4 linked regions of the Homo sapiens genome follow. The protein of the gene in region 4 purifies or fractionates together with the protein of the main gene of each other region. This does not show direct contact. Each region holds a gene or a part of one and is shown on either strand. Other genes may lie near its edges. The genes, in order: ZCRB1, PDCD7, RNPC3 and ZMAT5.

The links.
Region 1: the proteins of ZMAT5 (region 4) and ZCRB1 purify together in Homo sapiens (affinity purification with mass spectrometry; 2 studies listed by BioGRID and IntAct, with this or other methods). This does not show direct contact.
Region 2: the proteins of ZMAT5 (region 4) and PDCD7 purify together in Homo sapiens (affinity purification with mass spectrometry; 2 studies listed by BioGRID and IntAct, with this or other methods). This does not show direct contact.
Region 3: the proteins of ZMAT5 (region 4) and RNPC3 purify together in Homo sapiens (affinity purification with mass spectrometry; 2 studies listed by BioGRID and IntAct, with this or other methods). This does not show direct contact.

Annotation. Positions count from the first base shown.
Region 1 is NC_000012.12:42,316,065-42,323,094, reverse strand, and holds part of ZCRB1 (zinc finger CCHC-type and RNA-binding motif-containing protein 1), read left to right. Parts: intron 1-648; coding exon 649-677; intron 678-5,196; coding exon 5,197-5,308; intron 5,309-5,647; coding exon 5,648-5,755; intron 5,756-7,030.
Region 2 is NC_000015.10:65,130,792-65,137,659, reverse strand, and holds the start of PDCD7 (programmed cell death protein 7), read left to right. Parts: upstream 1-3,851; 5' UTR 3,852-3,878; coding exon 3,879-4,748; intron 4,749-6,868. UniProt on the Homo sapiens protein: Promotes apoptosis when overexpressed.
Region 3 is NC_000001.11:103,549,677-103,555,747, forward strand, and holds the end of RNPC3 (RNA-binding region-containing protein 3), read left to right. Parts: intron 1-1,264; coding exon 1,265-1,397; intron 1,398-2,044; coding exon 2,045-2,104; 3' UTR 2,105-2,116; intron 2,117-4,967; exon of another isoform or gene 4,968-5,357; 3' UTR 5,358-5,563; downstream 5,564-6,071. UniProt on the Homo sapiens protein: Participates in pre-mRNA U12-dependent splicing, performed by the minor spliceosome which removes U12-type introns. U12-type introns comprises less than 1% of all non-coding sequences. Binds to the 3'-stem-loop of m(7)G-capped U12 snRNA.
Region 4 is NC_000022.11:29,736,006-29,743,035, forward strand, and holds part of ZMAT5 (zinc finger matrin-type protein 5), read right to left. Parts: intron 6,476-7,030; coding exon 6,413-6,475; intron 4,726-6,412; coding exon 4,645-4,725; intron 2,437-4,644; coding exon 2,325-2,436; intron 1-2,324.

The sequences.
Region 1 (7,030 bases), on a different chromosome or scaffold from region 4:
ATGGGTAATGAGCTGGAACTGTAGAAATAAATGAGATTGCATAGGATAAAGTAAAAGTAACAGAAGAGAGAGCCAAGTATAAAGTTCCACCAACATGTTAATGGTGGGCAGAGGAAGAAGACTGATAGAAATGGATTTTTCATTATAAAAGCTTATTTTATGAGGTTTTGTTTTGTTTTTTAAATAAAGCAGTCTAAGGATTTGCCTTCTCAAACAGGGATTGCTTAATAGGAATAACAAGGTAGTGGTGAGGGTAGAATTGGAAAAGTGCTGCTCCATAAGATTGACATTTGAAGCACAGGTGTATCTGGCACTATGATGGAGTTGATAGTTGCCATGGGTATACCTCAGGAACACAGCAGCTGTCCAGTATGTATGCCTTAGATCTACCACATGTGTAGAGTGAGTTTTTTTCTCTGTATTTACTCCATTGTCAAATTTAGAAACAGACAGATACATGTGACTCCAACAACAGTAAGTATATTATTCTAGTAACCAAAAAAAACTTTTTCCTAGGGCCTGTCTTATAGACTGAAGGCTGAAATTATTCATAAACTGTAACAAAGAATTTGGTCAATGTCTGCAACCTAAAAATTTGATGTTTTATGATTTTAAAATAAATTGTAAATATTTGGTCTTTTGTTTCAGATATTTTCCAAGTATGGCAAAGTTGTAAAGTAAGTATTCACATTAAATTTTGTAACTTCATTTAAAAGTTTATCTGAATTTGCTTCTACATTTTTTTAATGACAGATTTTTAAAAATAAAACATGCTTGATATAATAAAGAAAATACTATTAACATTTTTATGACAATTTAGTTGGTTTTCCATGTACATAAACATGTAGACAATTTTTCTTAAAGACTATTACATACATACAATTTTCTTTTCTTTTTTAATTTGACATACCATAAATGTCTTTCCATGTGCTATAAAGATACATCCTCATAGCTAATGGTAAACAAATATTTTGGTTACTAGGAAGTGTGTTATCAAGTATACTATAAGTAACCTACTTTCAAATAAATAGGTGGTTTTTTGTTTTGTTTTTTTTCATATAAATAGTGTAAAAACAAATATTTCAGTGCATCTGACTTGCAGGATGCTATGAGTCTTTTAAATAGAAAACATATTATCTTCCTTCAGAGATAGCTTGGAGATCGTTGGAAAGACTAGAAACATGCAAAAATGGTAATGGATGATAACAGGGCTGAGGGTTAGGAACAATAAAAAGAACTTGAACTTCTCGTATTTCACTGTTTTAAATCAAGCAACTATATTATGGGGCAAAAAAGTAACAGGATACTGTCATCCTAACTTTCTTGTAACCAATATAGATTCTGATATAAATTTAAAATCCCAAGAATTTTGAGCATATTTATCTTGGCTAATTTCTTCTAGTGTTCCATAAATGGATATTAAACAGTTGAAGCTCTTTTGCATCTTGAAATTACTAACTTCTTTTACAGTTACTTTGCTATTAAAAAAGCATTATCAAAAATGCTTCTGTGTAAATTTTTGGGTGTTCAGATTTTAAAAAGTCATTGTCATCAGTCCAAACACTGGTAATGATGATGGTATGTGATACTTAAATGAGCACATATATATGCCAGGCATTGTTCTAATCTCTTTATGTGTATTATTTAATTCTCACAACTACCCTTTAAGGTAGGTACTATTATCATCTCAGTATTATACATGATGAAACTGAAGCACACAGTAAACCTAAGGTCATCTTGCTAGCTAGTGGTGGAGAAAATATTTGAATCCAACAGTGAGATTTCAGAGCCCACTCCCTTTTACCTTTTTTCTTTTTCCACTTTGTTAGAATCTCTGAATGGATCTCCATATAAATATATAGTCCTAAACCATGAAACTGCAATGGAGTTAAAGACACGAGAGTTATAAGCACCTAGAAACAGGGAAGACTATCTAGTCTAGAGAGCCAGGGAAGGCTTACCTAGGTCAGTATTTTTTGAGTGGAAACCTAAAGGATGAGTAAGAGTTAAGTAGGCAAAAATAAGGGAGGAATATTTCAGGTAGAGGGAATAGCTTGTGCAAAGGCCCTGTGGCAAGAGAAAATAAAGTGAGATCAAGAAATAGAAAGAAGGCCAATGTGACTGGAGATGAGTGAGTAAGGGGGAGAAAGCACAAGGTGGCTCCAGAGATGGAAGCAGGTTCCTCATCTTACTTCTTGGTCAGGTTACCAAGGTATTTGGTTTTCATTCTAAGAATATCAGGAATCATTTAAGAATTTTAAGTGAGGGGTGACATGATTTAAATTTTTTAAAGTTTATTCTGGCTTAATGTAGAAATTAGATTGGAGGGGAACAAAAGCAAATGCAGCTGGGTGCAGTGGCACACACCTGTAATCCCAGCACTTTGGGAAGCCGATGTGGGAGGATCACTTGAAAGGTCATGAGTTCAAGACCAGCCTGGCCAACATGGAGAAACCCCATCTCTACAAAAAATACAAAAAGTAGCCGGCCCTGGTGGTACACACCTGTAATCCCAGCTGCTTGGGAGGCGAGGCATGAGAATTACTTGAACCCAGGAGGCGGATGGAGGTGGAGGTTGCAGTGAACCAAGATCACACCACTGCACTGCAGCCTGGACAGAGCAAGACCCCATCGCAAAAAAAAGAAAAAAGCAAATGCAGTGAGACCAGTCTGAATCTAAAACTGTAGCCCAGGGGAGAAATGTGTACTAAAATAGTACAGGTGGAGATATAGAGACTGGTCAGATTTGAGAGGTGGTCAGATTTCAGAGATCATTATGAAATAAAGTGGGTAATAGTGATGTGTATAGGAAGCAAAGTGGGTACTATTTAGTGATATGCTTACTTTGCGTATAAGGACTTTGTGAACAAGAAGGAGGTGTTATGGATGACATTCAGGTTTCCCAAAATAGTGTATGCTTCATATTATGTGCTTAAATAAGTACATCATATACCTTATATTAGGAAATGGTGCTATTATCTACCTCTTTTCCCTTGCCAGAAACATGGGAGTCACAGTAGATTTGTCCTTTTAAATCTCTGATGTAATTTTTTTTTTCTGTTACCACAGAAGGTATCTCTATCAAAGTATTGTATGATAGTTGGTTTGTTGGTCTGTCTCTACCACTAAACTGTAAGATTTCTCCTGAGGGTAAAAACTACTGTTAGTGCTTAGCACATGGGCTTGAGGCTAACAGAGTGACTGAGTGACCGAATGAATGAACACACACAATGTACTCTTTTAGAAACTACTTTTCCCATTTTTTTGGTCTGTCTTTCCCATTGAATATAAAGGTATATCTATCAATCAACATATTGAGCTGGGCACATATGGATTACAGAGACAGCCTTAAAGGAGTTTACATTAAAATAGATGAGATGAGGCATTGTTTATGAATAACACAATTCAGCAGAGACTAGCATAACGGAGGAGAAATTATATCCAGTTGAAGCTATTAGAAACTGACACATTGACCTGAACCCCGAAAGAATGAGGAAAATTTTAATGAGCAGTGATTCAGAGGTGGAAGAAGATAGAAGCTGTATGAACAAAGGCACAAATTTGGGGAAATACAGGCCATGCTACTGGAGCATTGAGTGGTTTCTTTTGGGTAGACTTCATAGTGTGTGCGTGGGAAGGAGCAGTGAAAGATGAAGGAGATGGGAGCCAAATCATCAAGGATACTGACAGTGGGACAAAGAATAGGCAACTTACAGAACCAAAGATTTTTGAACAAAGGAATGGTGTGATTTTATTTATTCCTTAAGTAGAAGACTACTTAAGGATATGAGAAAATTATAAGAGAAAAAATTACCATAAAGGAACCAATAAGAATAGACTGTTAAAACAGTAATGCCCCTATGGACAAGAAAAAAGCAGTGGAATTGGAAAAGAGGCAACAGATGAGAGATCATTAATTGAGGATGATGTAGAAAGCCAATACTTCTTTTGAAATACTACTTTAAAAAAAAAGACTGATAACTTTCACAAACATTACGAAAAATTCCAAAACATAAAGCAACTACCTTATTCAATATTTCTGTCAAATTGGTGATTTTTCCAACTCCAGCATTCCCTCTACATTCACCAGTCATCCCTTGGCATTCTGTTGTAAGCAAGAGCCTTCCCTCCCATCTCCTCCACTTATTTATTGGTCTTTTATCAGTAAGAATTATAAATTCCTACCTTCTCTGTGGCTTATAATTTATTACTGTAATGAATTATTTTGATGCTCAAATTGTCCTTGATTTGGCCAGTGGGAGCTCCTTCCAGCTGGCTGCTGTATTCTTGGCCCCATCATTCATTCATTCATTCCTCCCTCCGTCTCTCTCTCTCTCACTCGCTCACGCACTCTTGCACTCTCTTACCTTCTGGCATAAGATGTTCCAAGCTCCTCTTGTACCTGCCCTGCTGTAGCCTTGGAATCCGCTATTTCTCCAAAGAGCCCTGTTGAACATTGTTTTTAAACTATGTTAAATGACATACGGTGGGCAAGGGCCTCCATGACTAGGGATGTGGATGGGGCAGGAGAAAGAGCAGGCTCTGTGCTCTCATAACTCTCCTTGTCACTCAGGTACACCCTGGTGGGTGGTATGGCTAAAAACCACAGAACTGGAGATTCTTTTTCCCTAAAGATCGGGGTCTCATTATGTTGCCCAGGCTGTTCTCAAACTCCCATGCTCAAGCATCCTCCTGCCTCTGCCTCCCAAGTAGCTGGAACTACAGGTGCGCACCACCACAACCAGCTCTGGAGGGTTTTTTTCCTTATTTTTCTGAAGATTCTTTAAAAGAATATTAAGAATATACTTTGATTCTAACACTTAGAAAAATAAATAAATCATTTTACTTTTTGTGTAAAGTATACCTTTATTTTGTTTTGTTTTGCAAGGTGAGGGAGTTAGCATGGAAGAGGGATTGTGGTTACACTTTAAGATTTCATTGTCTCTGTAATTTCTTTACTTCACCCTTCAATCTCTGATTAACTCCTAATCATAGCTGTGCTCACTTCTGTTAAATCAGTATCACCCTTTCCCATTTCCATTCTTGATATCCCTTGACTTTGAAGAGATAGCTGATTTTTCAAATGTATTAATTTATCTTATAAATTTTTAGCCCTTTTTAAAATGAATTTTTCAAGTATTAGTATCTGTTTTATTTATTGCTGCCTCATTTTTAACTCTTTGTTTATGCTTTAAGGGTTACCATCATGAAAGATAAAGATACCAGGAAGAGTAAAGGGGTTGCATTTATTTTATTTTTGGATAAAGACTCTGCACAAAACTGTACCAGGGCAATAAACAACAAACAGGTAAGCTATTCATCTCCATCAAGGTTTTTAGCCCCAAAGCCTTTATGCTCATCCAGGCCAAAAATGTGGGGATATAGTGGATCATCAGGTCTAGCAGATATCAGTAGATTCTTAAGATATCTAACTTATAGAAAGAAAAGAGGTCAAACTACTGGGTTCTCAAAACATTGGTGGAATCTCAGGAATAAGAATACTACAGAATAGAATTTATCACACCTAAGTGACAATTGCTAAAAAATCCAAAATAAACTGGAATTGAAGATTTGAGAAAATTGATTAAATAATTAATTTTAGGTTTCAGTGAAATACATTCTACATTTACATTTTTCTCTTGTTTAGTTATTTGGTAGAGTGATAAAAGCAAGCATTGCTATTGACAATGGAAGAGCAGCTGAGTTCATCCGAAGGCGAAACTACTTTGATAAATCTAAGTGTTATGAATGTGGGGTAAGTAAACCTAAAACTTAATGGAACTTTCCATAGTTTAAGATACTTTTCACATCAGTCTTTTATTTTTGCTCACCAAAACTTCTGACTGGCTAAACCAGATTATGAAAATGCTTTATTTTTTAATATTTATTTTTTTGAGATAGGGTTTTCCTCTGTCACCCAGTGCAGTGATGCAGTCACAACTCACTGCAGCCTCTACCTCCCGGGCCCAACTGATCCTCCCACCACAGTGTCTGAGTAGCTGGGACCACAGGCATGCACCATCACACCCTGGTTAATTTTTAAATTTTTTTGTAGAGGCAGGGTCTTCCTATGTTGCCCAGGCCAATCTCAAACTCCTGGGCTCAAGCAGTCCTCCCACCTCAGCCTCCCAAAGTGCTAGAGTTACAGGTGTTAGCCATGGTGCCTGGCCTAGTTGTTAGGGTCTCTAAACTCATCAAAGTAAATTCAATTGAAATGCAATGTGTAAAGATAACCTGAGTTGGGTAATACAAAGTGGTATTTTCTCTAGTTCCTAAATCTTTGAAAATCACTAGTTTTAAAAGTGTTAGACTGATTACTTATGTCACTGTCTTGCAAGATTTTCGTAACTCATAAATTTTTGTTAATAGGATATTGCCTGTTTCTTTAACAGTTTTTAAGTCACAGTTCAATAGCAACATTATCATGTGACTTTATCCTCTATGGGATATTGTGTTTTGAAGTTTTTTATTTTTTCCTATTAGTATTGCTAGTGTTTTGTAACTGAACTATCCCCACATTTTCTTCTTTGGTTCTCTTCATGATCTGTCATTATCCATTTAAAGTTTTGGTGATGAAGAGAGAGAGACAGCCATAGAATAATTTTGTATAAGGTCTGTATTGGTACCAAGAGAATTTTAGTCTGGTTCTCACAGGTGTAAGTTTGTAAAATGACCATAAAAATACTTAAGAAACAGGCCGGGCACAGTGGCTCACGCCTGTAATCCTAGCATTTTGGGATGCTGAGGTGGACGGATCACTTGAGGTCTGGAGTTCAAAAGCAGACTGACCAACATAGTGAAACTGAGTTTCTACTAAAAATACAAAAAAAAAATTAGCCAGGCATGGTGGCAGGTGCCTGTAATCCCAGCTACTTGGAAGGCTGAGGCAGGAGACTCGCTTGAACCCAGGAGGTGGAGGTTGCAGTGAGCCGAGATTACTCCACTGCACTCCAGCCTGGGCAACAGAGGGAGACTCTGTCTCAAAAATAAAAATAAACATAAAATAAAATACTTAAAAAACAGAGTCCAG
Region 2 (6,868 bases), on a different chromosome or scaffold from region 4:
CTGGCAGCATTTTGCTTCTGCCTTAGAGATTTGTGGAACTTTGAACTTAGGAGAGATGACTTAGGGTATCTGGCAGAAGAAATTTTTAAGCAGCAAAGCATTCAATAAGTGACTTGGGTGCTGTTAAAGGCATCAAGTTTTAAAAGGGAAATAGAACATAAAAGTTCAAAAAATGTGCAGCCTGACAATGCCATAGAAAAGAAAATCCCATTTTCGGAGGAGAAATTCAAGCCAGCTGCAGAAATTTGCATAAGTAACGAGGAGTTGAATGTTAATCTCCAAGACAATAGGGAAAATGTCTCCAGGGCATGTCAGAGATCTTTGCGGCAGCCCCTCCCAACACAGGCCCAGAGGCCTAGGAGGAAAAAATGGTTTCATGACCCAGGCCCAGGGTCCCGCTGCTGTGTGCAGTCTAGGGACTTGGTGCCCTGTGTCCCAGCCACTCCAGTCGTGACTAAAAGGGGCCAAGGTACAGCTTGGGCTGTGGCTTCAGAGGGTGCAAGCCCCAAGCCTTCACAGCTTCCACATGGTGTTGAGCCTGCGGGTGCGCAAAAGTCAAGAATTGAGGTCTGGGGCCGGGTGCACTGGCTCACGCCTGTAATCCCAGCATTCCAAATGATTGTGAGGCCTCCCTAGCCATGTGGAACTGTAAATCCATTAAACCTTTTTCCTGTATAAATTACCCAGTCTCAGGTATGTCTTTATTAGCAGCATGAAAACAGACTAATACAGAGGGTCCTTGGATCTTGTGCAAGAAAGATTTCAGGGCAAGTCCACAGTGCAAAGCAAAAGCAAGTTTATTAAGAAAGTAAAGTGGTGAAAGAATATCTACTCCATAGACAGTAGGGCGTTCCTGAAAGTAAGAGGAGAAACGTGTCCACCCTAGGTAGAATGCTTGCTTATATATAGGATAAAAAAAGATCATGGGGAGATGTGCTCTGCCACAAGGGTTTGTGATAAAGGATTAATTTTTTAAATTACTATATTTTACAAGAATCAACATTATTATCTTTAAAGCAAAATTAGGAATGCTTCTATTCTCAAAATATCGGGATCTCAGGACACTCCTAAGTACGGGTCTGTTTAGTAAATGTTATTAGTCTGTTCCCTTAACCATAAACATCTAGAGGCTAGGAATACCTAACTTCCTGGGAATGCAGCCAAGCAAGTCCCAGCTTCACTTTTCCTAGCCCTCACTCAAGATGGAGTCACTCTGGTTCAAATGCCTCTGACAATACTGTACTACAGTTTTACAAGATGTTACCCTTAGGGGAAACTGGGTAAAGGGTACACAGAATCTCCCTGTATTACTACTTCTCATATTCCATATGAATCTACAATTGTCTCAAAATAGTTTAATTTTAAAAATCTAATCAGGTGGCACAGGCTTCTCTTTACCTCTTGTTTAAAACCAATAGTTTCCCACTGGTCACAGTGGCTCACGCCTGTAATCCCAGCACTTTGGGAGGCTGAGGCAGGCAGATCACCTGAGATCAGGAGTTCGAGACCAACCTCAACAGGGAGAAACCACGTCTCTATTAAAAATACAAAATTAGTCGGGCATGGTGGTGTGTGCCTGTAATCCCAGCTACTCAGGAGTCTGAGGCAGGAGAATTGCTTGAACCTGGGAGGTGGCGGTTGTGGTTAGCCGAGATCGCGCCATTGCACTCCAGCCTGGGCAACAAGAGTGAGACTTGGTCTCAAAACAACAACAACAACAACAAAATAGTTTCCCATTGTTCATAAGATATGAGACCCCAGACATTAGGACTTCACTTCACCAGGATCACCAGACTCCTCTCAGAGCTCCATCCATAACTCGCATTCTTTTTTTTTTTTGGAGACAAGGTCTCGCTCTGTCTCCCAGACTGGAGTTCAGTGGTGTGATCTCGGCTCACTGCAACCTCCACGTCCTGGGTTAAAGCAATTCTCCTGCCTCAGCCTCCCCAGTAGCTGGGATTACGGGCACGCACCACCACACCTGGCTAATTTTTGTGTTTTAGTAGAGACAGGAATTCACCATATTGCCCAGGCTGGCCTTGAACTCCTGAGCTCAGGCAATCCACCCGCCTCGGCCTCCCAAAGTGCTGGGATTACAGGCCAAAACTGGCATTCTATCAGGCTTCCCACTAGACATAGTCCTGTAACCTAAGGCAGGTCCAGTTCCCTGCAGCTTGCAAATTCAAATAACAAGTAAGAGAATGGTAAAAAGAAAGTGACTGCCACGGGCACGGTGGCTCACGCCTGTAATCCCAACATGATCCAAGGCAGGCGGATCATGAGGTCAGGAGATCGAGACCATCCTGGCTAACATGGTGAAACCCCATCTCCACTAAAAATACAAAAAAATTAGCCAGGCATGGTGGTGGGCACCTGTAATCCCAGCTACTCGGGAGGCTGAGGCAGAAGAATGGCATGAACCCAGGAGGCAGAGCTTACAATGAGCCAAGATCACGCCACTGCACTCCAGCCTGGGCGACACAGGGAGACTCTGTCTCATAAAAAAAAAAAAAGAAAGAAAGTGGCCAGGTGTGGTGGCTCACACCTGTAACCCCAGCACTTTGGGAGGCCAAGGTGGACGGATCACCTGATGTAAGGAGTTTACGACCAGCCTAGCCAGCATTGTGAAACCCCCTCTCTACTAAAAACACAAAAATTAGCCAGGCGTGGCAGCAGGGGTCTATAATCCCAGCAACTGACTAGGGAGGCTGAGGCACCAAGAATAACTGGAACCTGGGATGCAGTGGTTGCAGTGAGTGGAGAGTGCGTCATTGCACTCCAGCCTGGGTGACAGAGGGACTCTGTCTCAAAAAAAGTGGGGGGTGCACGGGACTTGGTTGACCTGGATGGCATGCAAGGGGTGGGGAGGGACCAAGGAGGTGCTGGGTCTATGGGACTTGCTCCTATGTATCCATCAGTGATCTGGTTGGCGCCATGGAGGCTGGGGCGAAGGCGGAGGGGGGGTGGGGGGTAGCGGGGAGCTAGGTTGTAAATTGACAGTTGTCCCCAGGCAATCCCCTGGTATGGGAAAGTTCCAGAGGTCCCTGGTTTAAGCTTCGGTCCTTGGAACTAATAAGCGAACACATAATTAGATAAGCTTACAGTGTAGAGAGTGTCTGGTGGAGAGAAGGTAAAGGTTAATTGGATTTTTTTTTTTGACAGGTGTCATTCTGTCGCCCAGGGTGGAGTGCAGTGGCGTTATCGTGGCTCATTGCAGTCTTTACCTCCCAGGGCTCAGGTGATCCTCCCACCTCAGCCTCCCCAATGGCTGGGACTACAGGCCGATCTCGCCTGCCTCGGCCTCCCAAAGTGCTGGGATTACAGACGTGAGCCACAGCACCCACCCTATAATTGCATTCCTAAAGAGCTAAATAGGAGGTGGGGTGAAAGGAGAAAAGTAAAAATAATTCATTTTTCTAAGAAAATGGGTAGTTGGTCACACTCCTATTTACTAGGGCCTTTGCACATGTTCTCATCTGCACTGTGCTTCCCTCTCTTTTTCTATTTAACTATTTATCTTCCAGATCTCAGCTGCAGCCGCAGTTTCTTAGGATAACCTTCTCCAACTTCTCGAAGATACTCACCATGATTAATTGATTAGTGTGTTATACTAGGCAGATAGTTCCACGAAGAGAAGCTCTGTATCTCTCAGTCTCACTGTATGCGGAGTGGGTAGCTCTGCACCTAGGATGCTCAATAAGAACGGTATTTATGAACTGAACGACAGAAGGTTGAACGACTGCCCACTTATGCACTGAGCCTTCCGGAGGGACGAGTCTACAGGGGTCGCGCGTCGTAACGACGTCACTTCCGTCGGAAGGTTCTCATGAGGAGCCACTCAGATTCCTGTCACTTCTCAAAGCATCTCCGTCGTGAACATGGCCCTGCCACCATTCTTCGGCCAGGGTCGCCCAGGCCCACCGCCCCCGCAGCCGCCGCCTCCTGCTCCTTTCGGCTGTCCGCCACCGCCGCTGCCCTCCCCGGCTTTCCCGCCGCCTCTCCCCCAGCGGCCCGGCCCTTTTCCGGGGGCCTCCGCCCCCTTCCTTCAGCCTCCGCTGGCTCTGCAGCCCCGAGCCTCCGCGGAGGCCTCCCGCGGCGGAGGCGGCGCTGGCGCCTTCTACCCGGTGCCACCACCGCCGCTGCCTCCTCCGCCGCCCCAGTGTCGGCCCTTCCCGGGGACCGACGCCGGCGAGCGGCCGCGGCCACCGCCTCCCGGCCCGGGGCCGCCCTGGAGCCCGCGGTGGCCTGAGGCGCCGCCGCCGCCGGCCGACGTGCTCGGGGATGCGGCCCTCCAACGCCTGCGCGACCGGCAGTGGCTGGAGGCGGTGTTCGGGACCCCGCGGCGGGCAGGCTGTCCGGTGCCCCAGCGCACGCATGCCGGGCCCAGCCTTGGCGAAGTGCGCGCGCGATTGCTCCGGGCTCTGCGCCTGGTGCGGCGGCTGCGCGGCCTGAGCCAGGCCCTGCGCGAGGCCGAAGCCGACGGCGCGGCCTGGGTCCTGCTGTACTCCCAGACCGCGCCGCTGCGCGCGGAACTGGCCGAGCGGCTACAGCCGTTGACCCAGGCTGCCTATGTGGGCGAGGCGCGGAGGAGGCTGGAGAGGGTCCGGCGCCGCCGGCTGCGGCTTCGCGAGAGGGCCCGGGAACGCGAGGCCGAGCGGGAGGCAGAGGCCGCGCGGGCAGTGGAACGCGAGCAGGAGATTGACCGCTGGAGGGTGAAGTGTGTGCAGGAGGTGGAGGAGAAGAAGCGGGTGAGAGCAGCGGCCGCTCATGGGGGTAGGAGTGGTGGTGGTTGGAACCTGGAGCAGCAGGAGGCTTTAAACTTCCATTTCCCAGGGCTAAGCCTCTGTTTTACGCGCAAAATGAAGCGATAGCTAACCTTCCCAGCTCATACCACCATGTTAATTTTGTGTTAATGATGTGTGGTACACAAAAGTTCCAGGTGCACTGTAAAATCCTGTAAACACAAAGTATAGGATTACACGGTGGCACTGCACGAATGACAGGTCTCCCCTATCCTGCTCCAACATTGTCCACTTACTCTCAAAACCAGTAAGTGTCTAGTTCCTTGTGTCTTGTACTGCCCTAGGTGGTTTTAAGAATACAAAATACAGGCCGGGCGCGGTGGCCCACGCCTGTAATCCCAGCACTTTGGGAGGCGGAGGCGGGTGGATCACGAGGTCAGGAGTTCAAGACCAGCCTGGCCAAGATGGTGAAACCCCGTCTCTACTAAAAATACAAAAATTAGCCATGCGTGGTGGCGGGCGCCTGTAATCCCAGCTACTCTGGAGGCGGAGGTTGCAGTGAGCCGAGATCGCACCACTGCATTCCAGCCTGGGCGACAGAGCAAGACTCCGTCTCAAAAAAAAAAAAAATAGAGAACTTGGGGACCCTACCTCAAGGAATATATATACTCTAATTAGCTGATGGGGCAATAGTGATTTCCCTAGGATTCTTTTGTTTACAAGTTTTAAACCATGTATCCCCAGGTTCAGCAATGGTGTTTCGGAGCATTTACTATATATATATATATATATACACATACATACATATATATACACATACATATATGTATGTGTATATATATGTATGTATGTGTATGTGTGTATATATATGTATGTATCTGTGTATATATAGAGAGAGGTGTGCTAAGGTCATTACATATACCAGATTTTGAATCTTTATAACAGCCTTGAGAAGTAGGAAGTATTATGCTAATTTTACAGGTTAGGAAGTTGCATAGAGAGGTTAACTTGCCAACAGTCACACAACGAGTTTGTGGCAGTTTCCCATATTTGATCCCAAGTTGTCTAATTCCAAAGCGTATTGATCTCAGACTCTTTAAGCAGGGCCAGGGTAAAACTGGAAATTGTTCAGATGGTTTTCTAAGGCATTTTCTTTCTTTCTTTTTTTGAGATGGAGTTTCGCTCTTGTTGCCCAGGCTGGAGTGCAATGGCATGATCTTGGTTCACCACAACCTCCACCTCCCGGGTTCAAGCGATTCTCCTGCCTCAGCCTCCCGAGTAGCAGGGATTACAGGCATGCACCACTACACCCCAGCTAATTTTGTATTTTTAGTAGAGACAGGGTTTCTCCATGTTGGTCAGACTGGTCTCGAACTCCTGACCTCAGGTGATCCACCCGCCTCAGCCTGCCAAAGTGCTGGGATTACAGGCGTGAGCCACTGCACCTGGCCGTCTAAGGCATTTTCATTACCTTTGATTGCCTCTGGGGTTCCCTTTCCTCTTCCTCATTATTTCTATTATTATTACATTATAATACATAATGAAATAATTATACAACTCACCATAATGTGGAAACAGTGAGAGCCCTGAGATTGTTTTCCTGCAACTAGACAGTCCCATCTGGGGGTGATAGGAGACAGTGACAAATCATCAGGCTTTAGATTCTCATAAGGAGCCCACAACCTAGATCCCTTCCATGCGCAGTTCACTTCTTTGTGCTCCTATGAGAATGTAATGCTGCTGTTGCTGATCTGACAGGAGGCGGAGCTCAGGTGGTAATGCAAGCAATGGGGGAGTGGCTGTAAATGGAGATGAAGCTTCACTTGCTCGCCTGCCTCATCTTTTGCTGTGTGATCTGGTTCCTAACAGGCCATGGACTGGTTACCATCCGTGGCCTGGGGTTTGTTGACCCCTGGCTTAGAGATCTGTGGGAGATCATGTCAGTATAGCGTGGTGTGTGTTAGGAATTCAACTATAGGTGCTGTAAAAGCCCAAAGAAGGAACATCTGATTTACTGAGGGAATGCTTCCCAAATGATACAATGACACGTAAGCTGAGTCTTTTTTTTTTTTTCTGAGACAGAGTCTCGCACTGTTGCCCGGACTGAAGTGCAGTGATGCCGTCTT
Region 3 (6,071 bases), on a different chromosome or scaffold from region 4:
GGATACATGGAATAGTAGATCACTATATTAGGAATTTAAAAATTTGGTTTGTGTTTCTGACTTTAGATCTTAGCTATCTGCTTTGAAGAGTCACTCACTGTCTCTGGACATCACCTGTAAAATTATGGTTTTAATTAGATAATCATTGAGGTTCCTTTCTACTCCGAAGTTCTGTAATTGCTTATAATAATATAATGAACTCTAGGCCAGGTGTGGTGGTTCATGCCTGTAATCCTAGCACATTGGGAGGCCGAAGCGGGGGGGATCACTTGAGGTCAGGAGTTCAAGACCAGCCTGGCCTATATAGTGAAACCCCATCTCTACTAAAAATACAAAAATTAGCCAAGCATGGCGGTAGACGGCTGTAATCCCAGCTACCCGGGGGGCTGAGGCAGGAGAATCGCTTAAACCCAGGAGGTGGAGGTTGCACTGAGCCAAGATCACGCCACTGCACTCCAGCCTGGGCAACCAAGCAGGACTCTGTCTCAAAAATAATAATAATCATAATAATAATAATATAATGAATTCTATAATTGCTTATAACTGGCTGTTAATCCTTTCTATTTTTCCATTCTTGGTTATGTAGTAGTAGTTGTTTTTTTAATCACTTGAGCAGATAGTGCCAGATTGTAAGGAACTTAAAAAATTGAGATAAATAGTAATTTAAGAAGTTTGCAGCCAGTGCGGTGGTCCACGCCTGTAATCCCAGCACTTTGGGAGGCCGAGGCGGGCAGATCACGAGGTCACGAGGTCAGGAGATCGAGACCATCCTGACTAACACGGTGAAACCCCATCTCTACTAAAAATACAAAAAATTAGCCAGGCGTGGTGGCGGACACCTGGAGCCCCAGCTACTTGGGAAGCTGAGGTAGGAGAATGGCGTGAACCTGGGAGATGGAGCTTGCAGTGAGCGGAGATCATGCCACTGCACTCCAGCCTGGGTGACAGAGTGAGACTCTGTCTCAAAAAAAAAAAAAAAAAAAAGAAGTTTGGTTTTCTAGTTGCTAATAGTATAATTTTTAAATCACATACTTTTATGATAGTTGAGAATAGTTAAAAGTATATCTTAAACAAATACTACCTACTTGTAGAATCAATTTTAGTGCAGAACATGAAATATATTTTTAGAAAACTGAATAATTGACGTGCCTATCAAATAGTGTAGTCACTTTTATTTGAAATAGCAAAATGTTAGATTATTCAACACATTTTCATTCACATTGAAACTGACATTCTTTGAATCAAAACTGTTTCTTCCTTCTAGGTTTGATATACGTTTGATGAAAGAAGGTCGTATGAAAGGACAAGCTTTCATTGGACTTCCTAATGAAAAAGCAGCAGCAAAAGCCTTAAAGGAAGCTAATGGATATGTGCTTTTTGGAAAACCCATGGTGGTTGTATCCTTTAAATCCATCTATTTCAAAACTATATAATTTTTAGAAGGATATAACTGAAATTAATTTTCATGTTACCCTTTAGAAATTTCCACAATTGGCATTCTAGCAGTAGATATTCATTCGTTACAATTAAACCCACCTTACTGAGTCAGATGACAGTGTTATTTAGATTTTTAATAAAAGAGCTTCAGCAGCATGAGGTTGTTCAATTTCAGCCAAGTTTAAATGTTTCACTTATGCAGCTCAAAAGTACATAGGCATGCTAAGAGACTAGAGTATCCAGAAGTACATTTGGAGTCATAAAAGAACTAATTCATTTTATCATTTTATTGTAATTTATATTTCTACATGAGAATTTTAATAACTAGAGTATATCATTGATTAACCATCTTGCTTTTAGTAGTCAATGCAGTTTGCAAACTAGAAATCAGCAAGATAGGTAAAGAAGCAAAGGCCCAGGTATAAAAAATAATGACTGTAAAGGAAAAGTTAATTATTAATTTCCTCTCAAGTCATGAAGAGAGGCAGGAGGCACTCAAGGTAAATTAAAAAACCATACTCCCACCATACACTAGAAAGTTTTTGAGAATTATTTAGAAAAGATTACTTGCATATTCATGAAGGAAACCTTAATTTTAAATTATTAGCAGTTTGCTCGATCTGCTAGACCAAAACAAGATCCTAAGGAAGGAAAAAGAAAGTGTTAAAAATTAATAAAGGTAAGTGTGAATAAAACATAATAAAAAGACAAGACTAATTCTTGAGATAAAATTAAGAATAAAAGTTTGACAAGGTAGTAATTCAGGTATCTCTTTTTTTTTTTTTTTGAGGAAATACCTATCTGTGCAGTTAAGTCCCATTAAACGTCAAAACTATAACTACAGATTAAAACCCATTTATATGTGAAAATTAAGTTTGGAGAATGAATCTTATAAGGGGAGTGTGCCTGTTACTCTTTTTTTAACTTTTTCTGCCTATAGTAAAGCAATGGTTCTTAAACCCTAATATGTATCATATCACTTGGAGAGCCTAATAAAACACAGATTCGTAGGTTCCTTCCTTCCCTGAAAGAGTTGATTTGGTAGGTCTGATGTGGGGACCTAGGGAAACTGTTTATACCAGTTTTCCTTTTAATGAGGGGATTTCCAGGATGCTGGACATTTAGTGCTGAAATGGGGAATGTGTCTGGTAAGCCAAGACAGGTCGGTCACCCTTGTTGGCACCTGAAAATTTGCGAGATTAATGAGGTTTCAGGTAATGATGAGGCATCTTATCCAGAGACCACAGCTTGAAAACTCCTGGAATAAACACTTACAGATACATTTTCTAACTCTTAAAATTAACCTAAAGTAAATGTTAAAATAAAAGTTAAAAAAAAAAGTCAAACTGTCATTAAAAATAATTCTGGCTGAGCACGGTGGCTCACCCCTGTAATCTCAGCAATTTGGGAAGTGGAGGTGGGCGGATCACAAGGTCCAGAGATCAAGACCATCCTGGCCAACATGGTGAAACCGACTCTCTACTAAAAATACAAAAATTAGCTGGGTGTGGTGGCGCCTACCTGTAGTCCCAGCTACGTGGGCGGCTGAGGCAGGAGAATCGCCTGAACCTGCGAGGTGGAGGTTGCAGTGAGCCGAGATCAAGATCACGCCACTGCACTCCACACTGGCAACAGAGCAAGACTCCATCTCAAAAAAAAAAAAAATCTACAGTGCTGAGTATATAAAATTATTAACACATTTCACAACAATATGTGTTTGTGGAGTTAAATATTTTTTGTCTTTAAAACAGGTAATTTTAGTGCATACTTAATTTGATGATTAAATATGGTAGAATTAAGCATTTTAAATGTTAATGTTTGTTACATTGTTCAAGAAATAAGTAGAAATATATTCCTTTGTTTTTTATTTAAATTTTTGTTCCTCTGTAAACTAAAAGAACACGAAGTAATTGGTCACAATTACTGGTGTTTAACTGCCAAATATGGGTAAATAAGGGAAAATTTTGTTTAATATTTAGTCCTTCTGAGATGGCTTGAATATTTGAATTTTGTTGTACGTCTATACTGGGTAGTCACAAGTCTTATAAACACTTTAGAGGAAAGATGGATTTCAGTCTGTATTTTTAAACATCATTTATTTTAAATCTGGTGCTGAAAAATAAGAAAAAAATTAAACTGCATTCTGCTGTTCTTCTTTAGAAGCATTCCTGCGTAAATACTGCTGTAATACTGTCATGCAAAGTGTATCCTTTCTTGTCGTATCCTTTTTGGGGCAGTGTTTTTTTGTTTTTTTCCTAGAAATGTTTGTCCTTCCCCCACCTGTTGATCCAGGTTAAGGAATACTTTTTTACACTTTATTCAAATGAAATATTTCTAAAATTATTTGTATAGACTGAACAGATCTTTTATGTGTTTTTAGATTTGTTGTTGAATTTTCTGTGCTGTCCTTTATATAATTTTTTGAGGGAAAGTTAGTGAATCAGGTCAACTTACTTAGAGAATGTGTTCATTTACTTTAACCCAGAATACAGTCTTGTTTCTTCTATTTGTATGTTTCCTAAACCTAATTCAATAACATATGCTTTCTGTTGTGTAATATATCTGGTTTAGGTATTTATAATGTGTTTAAAATTTGGGCAAAGGAAATGTTTTTCTTTTAAAAAGTACTTACATTGAAAATTAAGATGTCTGGATTACTATGTAAATTCTAGAGAGTAGCAGACCTCTCATCTGAAGTCTTAGTGAATCTCTTTTGACATAGATAGCAATAGAAGTATCTTTCTTCTTTCCCCTTTCTTTTTCTAAACAAGAGAAGAAAAGCGTAATAGAGGGGAGAACACATAATGCCCACTAAGGGTAGTGCATTAAGGAAAAACAGTCTTGGCAGGTATATAGGAATAGTGGTTTCCAGACTGGTTGATGACCGTAATCACCAAGAACAGTGGTTCTCAGTCTTGGCTGCACATTGCAGTGATCTGGAACTTAAATACTAATTTTAAAAGGGTGCAGTGGCTCATACCTGTAATCCCAGCACTTTGCAAGTCCGAGATGGGAGAATCACTTGAGCCCAGGAGTTTGAGACCAGCCTGGGCAATGTAGGGAGACCCTGTCCCTACAAAAAATACAAAAATTAGCCAAGTGTGGTGGCTTGCACCTCTGGTCTCAGCTACTTGGGATGCTAAGGCAGGAGGATTACTTGAGCCCCAGAGGTTGAGGTTGCAGTGAACCATGATCACACCACTGCATTCTAGCCTGGGTGACAGAGTGAGACCCTCTCCCTCCTAAAAAAATCCTTAAGAAATATATTGATGCTTGGTTCCTTTGGTCAGAATTTTGATTTAAGGTGTTGGGAGTGTAGCACAGATGTTGGAATAAACCTCTCAAACTGATTTTAATATACAAACAAGGTCGAGAACCACCAAGGAAGAGTTTTTATGCATAAAGATTCCTGTACTCTACCCTAGAACTAATACATCTGAATCTCTGGGAATGGAGTATAACAATCAGATTTGAAAAGGTTTCTTTAGTAATTTTAAGGACTGACCAGTTTAGACACTGCTTTGTTAGAGTAAAATGATTAGGTACCTAGTATCAACCTAGCCATCCAACCTTATATTAATAACTAGGAAAATAAAGGGTTGGAGCCTCTGTGTTTCTTTGTTGAAAAATCTGCTACTATTATTAGATCTGTGAAAACAATTGAAAATTCGGTTATTATCACCTTAAAAGTACAAAACCTATAGATTTTGAAAATGTAATTATTTTTCTGTAGGCATAGTTAAAAAGATTTTGTAAATGTTATAAATCAGTTTCTTTATAAGCGGTTTATTTAGATAAATTTTGTTATACTGACATGATTCACTAATTTTCTAAATATAAATGGTTCAGCTCTTAGTTATTTTTAAACTAATGACCTGTGTTATACTTCCTATTTTTAATGGGCTTTTATGATGTTTTAGGTTTTTTTGAATCCCGTGTCCTTCAAGTGCTTTCTAACTTTGAGAGGAAGAAATTGACCACCTGGACTATGGAACTGTGCGTAACAGCTTTGAAAGTGTATTTAAAAATTAAATCTATATGCCTTTAAATCAGTGAATTGGAAACATATTACATGTATTTTAATGATTTTCCTCAAATATAATAAATTGTTTCCTTTCCAATAAAATAGTGTTTGTATTTTTTCTTTATCTGGTTTAACACATCTAGGAAAACATAATATTATAAAAAATATATATAATTTGTAATATAATTTTTTTATGATTACAAATACTGCCTTTTAAAAATTCTTACCTGGATACCAAAGCACTTTCACATTTTTTTTATTGTAATCTTGTTTTTTGTAATTATTTTATATTTGTCTGGCTTTGAGTTTTACTGGGCTTTTGGTTTTTTGGAAATGGGGGTTTATCCCAATTTAGAAATTTGTATCCTTGCTGTAATACAGTCTTCCATTTTTGTTCCCCCAAATCTTTCATCTGTCAGAACGTCACTCAAAGGTGAAAATATTTCCCACATAAAATTATTCTGTTCCTTTAATGAAATGAGTTTCAGCTGTATATACGTAGGAAAACATTCTTTTTTGTCAACTTGACGTTGACAAACTTGGTGGATGTCAGGAGTAAGGGTATTCAAGAGAATTTTGAAGAAGAATTTAATATAGTGAGTATCGAAGA
Region 4 (7,030 bases):
GTGACTCGCTCCCAGCGGAGGACACCATGGACCCAGAGCAGGGAGGCGAGTGGCTGGTGCAACTCGGTTAGCAGGTGGCAGAGTGAGGATGGGACTCATAGGAGATCCTGTCCAAGTAGCGGTGCAGGGGCCAGAGCTTTCTGGGCAGCCTCCAACCAGCTCAAGCCTTTTGCACACGGGCTGAAGGAGTCTGGGGTGTAGGACGTGGATCCCTGGACAGCAACCAGTCCCAAAGGAGGTGCTCACATGCACAAAGACAGGATAGAACCCCTTTAGACGGGACCCTTCAGACAGGACCAGGAGGAGAGAATGTCACACTCCAACGTTTGAGTCATGTCTGTACCACATATACTTTTAAGGTGGGGAGACAAAAACTGAACACGGATTTAAAATAAAGGTAAAAGACAAAGTTAGTTTTAAAACACCTTTACTGGCTGGGTGCGGTGGCTCATGCCTGTAATCCCAGCACTCTGGGAGGCTGAGGCAGGTGAATCACCTGAGGTCAGGAGTTCGAGACCAGCCTGGCCAGCACAGCGAAACTCTGTCTCTACTAAAAATACAAAAATTAGCCGGGCATGGTGGTGCATGCCTGTAATCCCAGCTACTTGGGAGGCTGCAGCATGAGAAATGTTTGAACCCAGGAGGCGGAGGTTGCAGTGAGCCGAGATCGTGCCACTGCACTTCAGCCTGGGTGACAGAGCGAGACTCCATCTCAAAAAAAAAAAAAAAAAAAAAAAGGCTGGGCGCGGTGGCTGACACCTGTAATCCCAGCACTTTGGGAGGCTGAGGCGGGTGGATCAGGAGGGCAGGAGATTGAGACCATCCTGGGTAACATGGTGAAACCCCGTCTCCACTAAAAACACACAAAAAAATTAGCCGGGCGTGGTGGCGGGTGCCTGTAGTCCCAGCTACTCAGGAGGCTGAGGCAGGAGAATGGCGTGAACCCCAAGAGGTGGAGTTTGCAATGAGACAATTGCACCACTGTACTCCAGCCTGGGCGGTAGAGCAAGAATCCGTCTCAAAAAAAAAAAAAAAAGCCGAGTGTGGTGGCTCATGCCTGTAATCCCAACACGTTGCACTTTGGGAGGCCGAGGCAGGCGGATCACCTGAAGTCGGGAGTTCAAGACCAGGCTGGCCAACATGGTAAAACCCCATCTCTACAAAAATACAAAAATCAGCCAGGTATGATGGTGGGTGCCTGTAATCCCAGCTACTTGGGAAGCTGAGGCAGAAGAATCGCTTGAACCCAGAGGCAGAGGTTGCAGTGAGCTGAGATCACACCACTGCACTCCAGCCTGGGCAATACAGCAAGACTCCATCACAAAAAAAGAAAGAAAGAAAGAAAAAAAACACCCTCATAGTCTCTTTCACTGGAGCACAGAGAAGGCAAGAAGTTTGGCCTTCACCTCCTGGCAGAGCTCCAAGGGAAGGCCTCTTCCCCCAGACTATCTGGCCAGGTCCCCTTGGCCCAGGCCAGGCCACCATTTTGTGAAGCCACACCACAGAGGTAGTCAGGTCTGAAGCCCGTTGCAAGATGGGGAAAGCAAGGTAGTCGGGATGGGAAAACGTGTTCAAAGTCGCATGCGGCTCCTGGGCGCAGCTTTATCCCCTTTTCCTCCCCTCCCTCCTTCAACTGCTGGAGGAAGAGCCCAGGAGCTCAGGCTTCGGTTTTGGCCGCCAGCCTTTGTCTGCCCCTGCCTGCCCTGTGCCCCGTTCTGATGTGAATATCACCCGAGGCCCTTCCCTCAAAGAGGAGGACCAGGGACATCACGAAGCACACACCCCAAGGACCCCGATCCAGCAGCTCCCCTTCTACTTGTGAGCGTCCCGAGGGCTGGGGCCATCTCCAGACCCCCTTCCTTAGAAAGGCAGTGGGACCAGGACCTCGTCATCACGCCTGTGCAATCCCGGCTCTACATTTTCCCGTCTGTGTGCCCTCGGGCAAGTCGCACCCTCCCTGTTTTCCCTTCTGCAAGGCCCTAGAGGCAACAGTGGGCAGCAGTGCATGGTGACCACAGCCCAGGCCCCTCCCTCTGGCAACGGACTTGTGACTTGCAGCCAAATCAGCTCTGCCGCCTGCCTCCCCTCCAGCCAGCACAGACTCCAACAGGGGCCCAGCTTTGGGAGAGGCTCTTTCAAACACCCCTCAGCCTCTGGCCAGGGCCTGGGGCCCCAAGGGCTCCTCGGGGAGCTATGTGTAGGCAACTTTATTCGGCCCCTGGGCCTGGGCAGTTCATGGAGATTCCTGAGCCTCAGGAAGGGGAAGGCGGGCTGGGGTTTTGCCCCCAGGGGGCACAGCGGGAGGGAACCCTGGGGACCTGTACCTGCTACTTGGGGCTGAGCTCAGCCGCTTGGCTCTCTTCTCCAGCCAGTCCTCCAGATGGCCCTCGGGGAGCTCAGGAGCATCTAGTAGCCACTCCCTGGCTCGCCTCTCCTCTGTGGGGACAGGGAGACAAAGGCAAGTGAGGGGTACACTCCTGCCTGCCAGAACCCTACCCTCTCACAAAGCAGAAGCAACTGGTAGGCCCTGAGCAAGCCTGGGAAGTTGCAGCAACCTTCCAGGAGGATGCACCTGGACTGCTTCTCCAGGCCATCTGTGCACGAGGGCCCAGCACTCGGCCTCGCTCTGTTTTCCCATCAAATAGAGACAACCCCGGCTGCCTCCAAGCTCTTGGGGAGCTGGAAACAGGACAGTGCTTGTAGAGAACCTGGCCCTGGCCAGGCGTGGTGGCTCACGTCTGTAATCCCAGCACTTTGGGATGCCAAGGCGGGCGGATCACCTGAGTCCAGGAGTTTGAAACCAGCCTGGCCAACATGGAGAAACCCTGCCTCTACTAAAAATAAAAATAAAAAAAATTAGCCATGTGTGGTGGTGGGTGCCTGTAATCCCAGCTACTTGGGAGACTGAGGCAGGAGAATCGCTTGAACCTAGGAGGTGGAGGCTGCAGTGAGCTAAGATCGCACCACTGCACTCCAACCTGGGCGGCAAGAGTGAAACTCCATCTCAAAAAAAAAAAAAGAGAGAGAGAGCCTGGCCCTAAGGAGGGGTCTGAATCTGAGGTGCAGGGAGGCAGTGAGGGCAGTCGAATGGGGTCACATCTCAGCTCTGTCACCTGCCGGGTCTTTGACCCTGGGCAGGGTAATGAGCCTCAGCTTCCCTGGTTTTTATTCTCATAAGCTGTCCAACAAAACCTGTTGCTCAACGAATTAAAACCAATCAACGAATGGAATTTATACAAGCTGGGTGTGAGCGTTTGATGGGGTCAGAGTCGCCAAGTCATCTGGGATGGAGTCTTGGGCCAGAGGAAAGTAATCATACACTTGACTAGCACTCACTCAGAGCCAGGCCCCAGTCTCTGGAGCTCACTCGGGGCCAGGCCTCGGTCTCTGGAGCTCACTCGGGGCCGGGCCCTGGTCTCTGGAGCTCACTTGGGGCCGGGCCCTGGGCTGTACAGGTGTCATCTTGCTTCATCCTTAGAGACATCACATTCGACAGGACACAGCCTCCAAGAGGTTAAGCCACGTACCAAGGTTACAGAGGACGTGGCAGAGCTGGGACTGTCAGAGCTGCCAGCTGGGACTCTGTTCCCAGCCTCCCTGGGCCTCTCCCCATTCCTGTCCCCGCTCGGCATCGTCTCCAGTTCCAGGCCCACTGCCCCGTGCTCGTCCCACCATGGGCCAGCCGTCCTCTGAGAGCCCATAGCCAGGGAAGAGCTGCAGCTGCCGCTGCTGCCAGGACTTGCTGGCCAGTCCCACAAGGCCTTGCTTCCACCCTGGGGAAAAATGCTCCTGGAAACCCTGTGTTGGTCCCGGGGCTGCAGCCACAGCACCACTGGCTCCCAGGGCAGGGCACGGAGCCTGCAGTGTCTAACTGGTCAGAGGGGAGTGAGGCCCGTAGGGGGATCAGGGCAAAGGCCAAGCTGCCCCAGACCTTCACTGGCTACCCTGAGGCCTCCTGGACAGAGAAGCTTAAGGGGGCAGGCACTGAGAGACCTGGAGTCTGCCCCCAACCTGCTGGGGGGCTCACGCGAGGCCTTTCAGTCTGAATGTTGGCCTTAGTTTCCCCACCTGTTCAGTGAGAGGCTGTGGAAGAAGATTGATAAACACCATCTCAGTCAGAACTTCCTTGTTCTCTAACTAGAGGAGTGAATTTCCCAAAGGCGAGATGTCAGTTTCCATGGAAGCTGAACTTGCCCCTCCCTGGAATCACCAGGCTGTGAGACTCCAGAGGGCAGGGAAGGTGCGTTCCTAAACTCCTTATCCCTAGACTGTCGTAAGGGGTCTGCTTGGTGCCAAGTGGGGACTGGGTATGCTGCCTGATTGAGGAAGGGATGGGGTGTACCCACCAATGACTGCTGGGCTGGCCACAGGGTCCAGGTGGGGCTGAGGTGCACCTTCAGGGCTCCCAGGCAGGAAGCCACACAGGCTCCACTGTAAGGGGACACAGGCCTGCCTTCTCCACTCATGCTGAAGCTGTTCCTAACACCTGGCCCAAACCGGGGGCTCAGGGCTCCGCATCACCCTGGGTGGCCCTTGGTTGCCAATGATGGGGAGATAGGGAGGCATAGGCCAGCTTCCCCGGTCTCAGAGCCCACATGCCCCAGCACCCCACTCCCGCTTAGCCCAGGGCATCCCGAGACGTACCCTCCACCTGGATGCTCAGCTCCTGCAGGTCTCGCTCTGACATGTGGGAAAATCTGCAGTTGGAGCCAAAGTCGCACTGGCCTGCAGCAGGAAGACAGAGTTACTCGCTGCTCGGGAGGGGCTCCCCACAGGGGCTGAGGGGTGCCCAGATGAGGGATCCCAGAATCTTAGGGGCAGGACTTCAGGGCCTAAAGAATAGCAACCCTGATCCGGGACAGAAAATGGAATCTCTCCGGCCCTGCCCATTCAGCAGCCAGAGCGACTTCTCACCTATCATGCCACATGCTCACGACCCTTCTCCAGCTGCCCCCCATGCTGGGGATCACTTCCAACTGAAGCCTGTCATGACTGGGCCTCGCAAGCCTCTGCAGGCTGTCTCTGTCACCAGCCCTCCCAGCCCTGCCTCGATGAACTACATATGGGTTCCTGAAAGGGCAATGCTTCCTTTCTCCACTCCAAGCCGCAGCACGTGCTATGCCCAGCCTAGTATTCTGCCTGCCTACCTGGCTCACGGGAGCAATTGGACTGCTCCTTAGAAAGGCTTCAGTGGCAGCTTTGCCAAAGAGGCACCAAAATCTGGGGTGGCTTCCCCTCTTTCAACCAAGGAGACCAAAATGTATGTCGAGATACTGGGAGGCTGGAGGTGTCTCAAGCCAGGATAACCTACCAGTGACATATTCACATCAAGGCAAAGTCTGTAGGGAAGCCCCTGATCTGCAGGCTTGGTGCCCATCCTAGGGGAGCTTGGACATTCACCCAGTTTCCCTAGTTCAGCTGCAGCACCTCTCCCCAGTGCTAAGCTCCCTTACAAACCATGTGAATCATCATAGTTTTCCTCTTTGCCATGGCTGCCAGGAAGCTCAGAGCCAAACCCTTAGAGAATACATAGGACCTCAAGGGCAAGCATGGAGGAGACTATTCTCTTGGTTTTATCTTATTTTTCCTACTCTTATTTGTATCTGTCTTTGGTTCCTTCACTTACTGAGGTTTTACCTCTTGCTCTGTCTTTTTTTAAAAGAGACAGGGTCCTCACTCTGTTGCCCAGGTGGGAGTGCAGTGGTGCAATCATAGCTCACTGCAGCCTTGAACTCCTGGGCTCAAGTGATCCTCCTGCCTCAACCTCCCTAGTAGCTGGGACTACCAGTGTGTGCTACCATGCCCAGCTAATTAAAAAAAATTTTTTTGGTAGAGATGGGGTCTCGCTATGTTGCCCAGGCTGGTCTCAAACTCCTGGCCTCAAGCATTCCTTCCACCTCAGCCTCCCAAAGTACTGGGATTACAAGAGTGAGGCACCATGCTCGGCCCTTTATCTCTCTGACCTATATGCATCTCTAGTAGCTGAGTACTGAGCAGTCAAATCTACACCTAGCATCCTTGGTTCTGATCCTGAACTTCCTCAGATCATCAACCCTGTTACTCTCTGAAGTTCTGCCTGCTGGGAAGGAGGCCAGGTTCCCAGGCTAACTTAATCAACAAGTCTATTCCACCCATAAGTGTCTCTTGGATTTACATGTAATCTCCCACGCCTTGCTTGTTCTAGGTGAGCTGATATAATCACATTCTAGATCTGAAGAGCTGAGGACCAGACTCTAGGAGGTCCTGAGACACACTTGGGAAGGCCCTGACTGGCCAGTCAGCTGGAGCCACTGCTGCAAAGTGGGCTTGGGATGGTGGCCCGGGTCGGGGAAGACACTCTGCAGAGGTCCAAGTGGGGCAGGCTGGATATCGCAGGTCCCCGCAGGGACCTGAGCTGTGCAGAGGACTTTACCTGTCAGTAGAAACTTCCTGCAGGGCCGCTTGTTCTGCTCATCCAGCAAGATGGCAGCTGCATCTGCGAGAGAAGAGAGGGACGGGATTCGGATGGTTCAGGCTCCACCAAAGGAGGCAGGAAGTGGAAGCCACAGGGGCATATGGACCCTTTATCTCGACACAGCTGTGCAGAAAGAAGAGTTTCCTGTTCCACGGAGGAGTGGAAGCAGGAGATGACCACAGGTGGGAGTCCTGGGCAGATGGATCCGAGCTGCAGGTGACCTCAATCCATCCCACCCCACGCAGGACGGGCCAAAGACAAGGACCAAGTTTCATGCCAGCAGTTCTCAACTTGGCACGAGGGAGTCAGCTGGAGAGTCTGGGGACTTTGGGTTTTTTTGTTTTTTAGAGACAGGGTCTCGCTCTGTCACCCAGGCTGGAGTGCAGTGGTGCAATCATGGCTCACTGCAGCCACTACCTCCTGGGCTCAAGTGATCCTTCTCCAGTCTCAGCCTCCCAACTAGGTGTGACTACAGCTGTGCACCACCATGCCCAGCTAATATTTTTTATCTTTTTGTAGAGCTGGTGTCTCATTATGTTGCCCAGGCTGGTCTTGAACTCCTGGGCTCACACGATC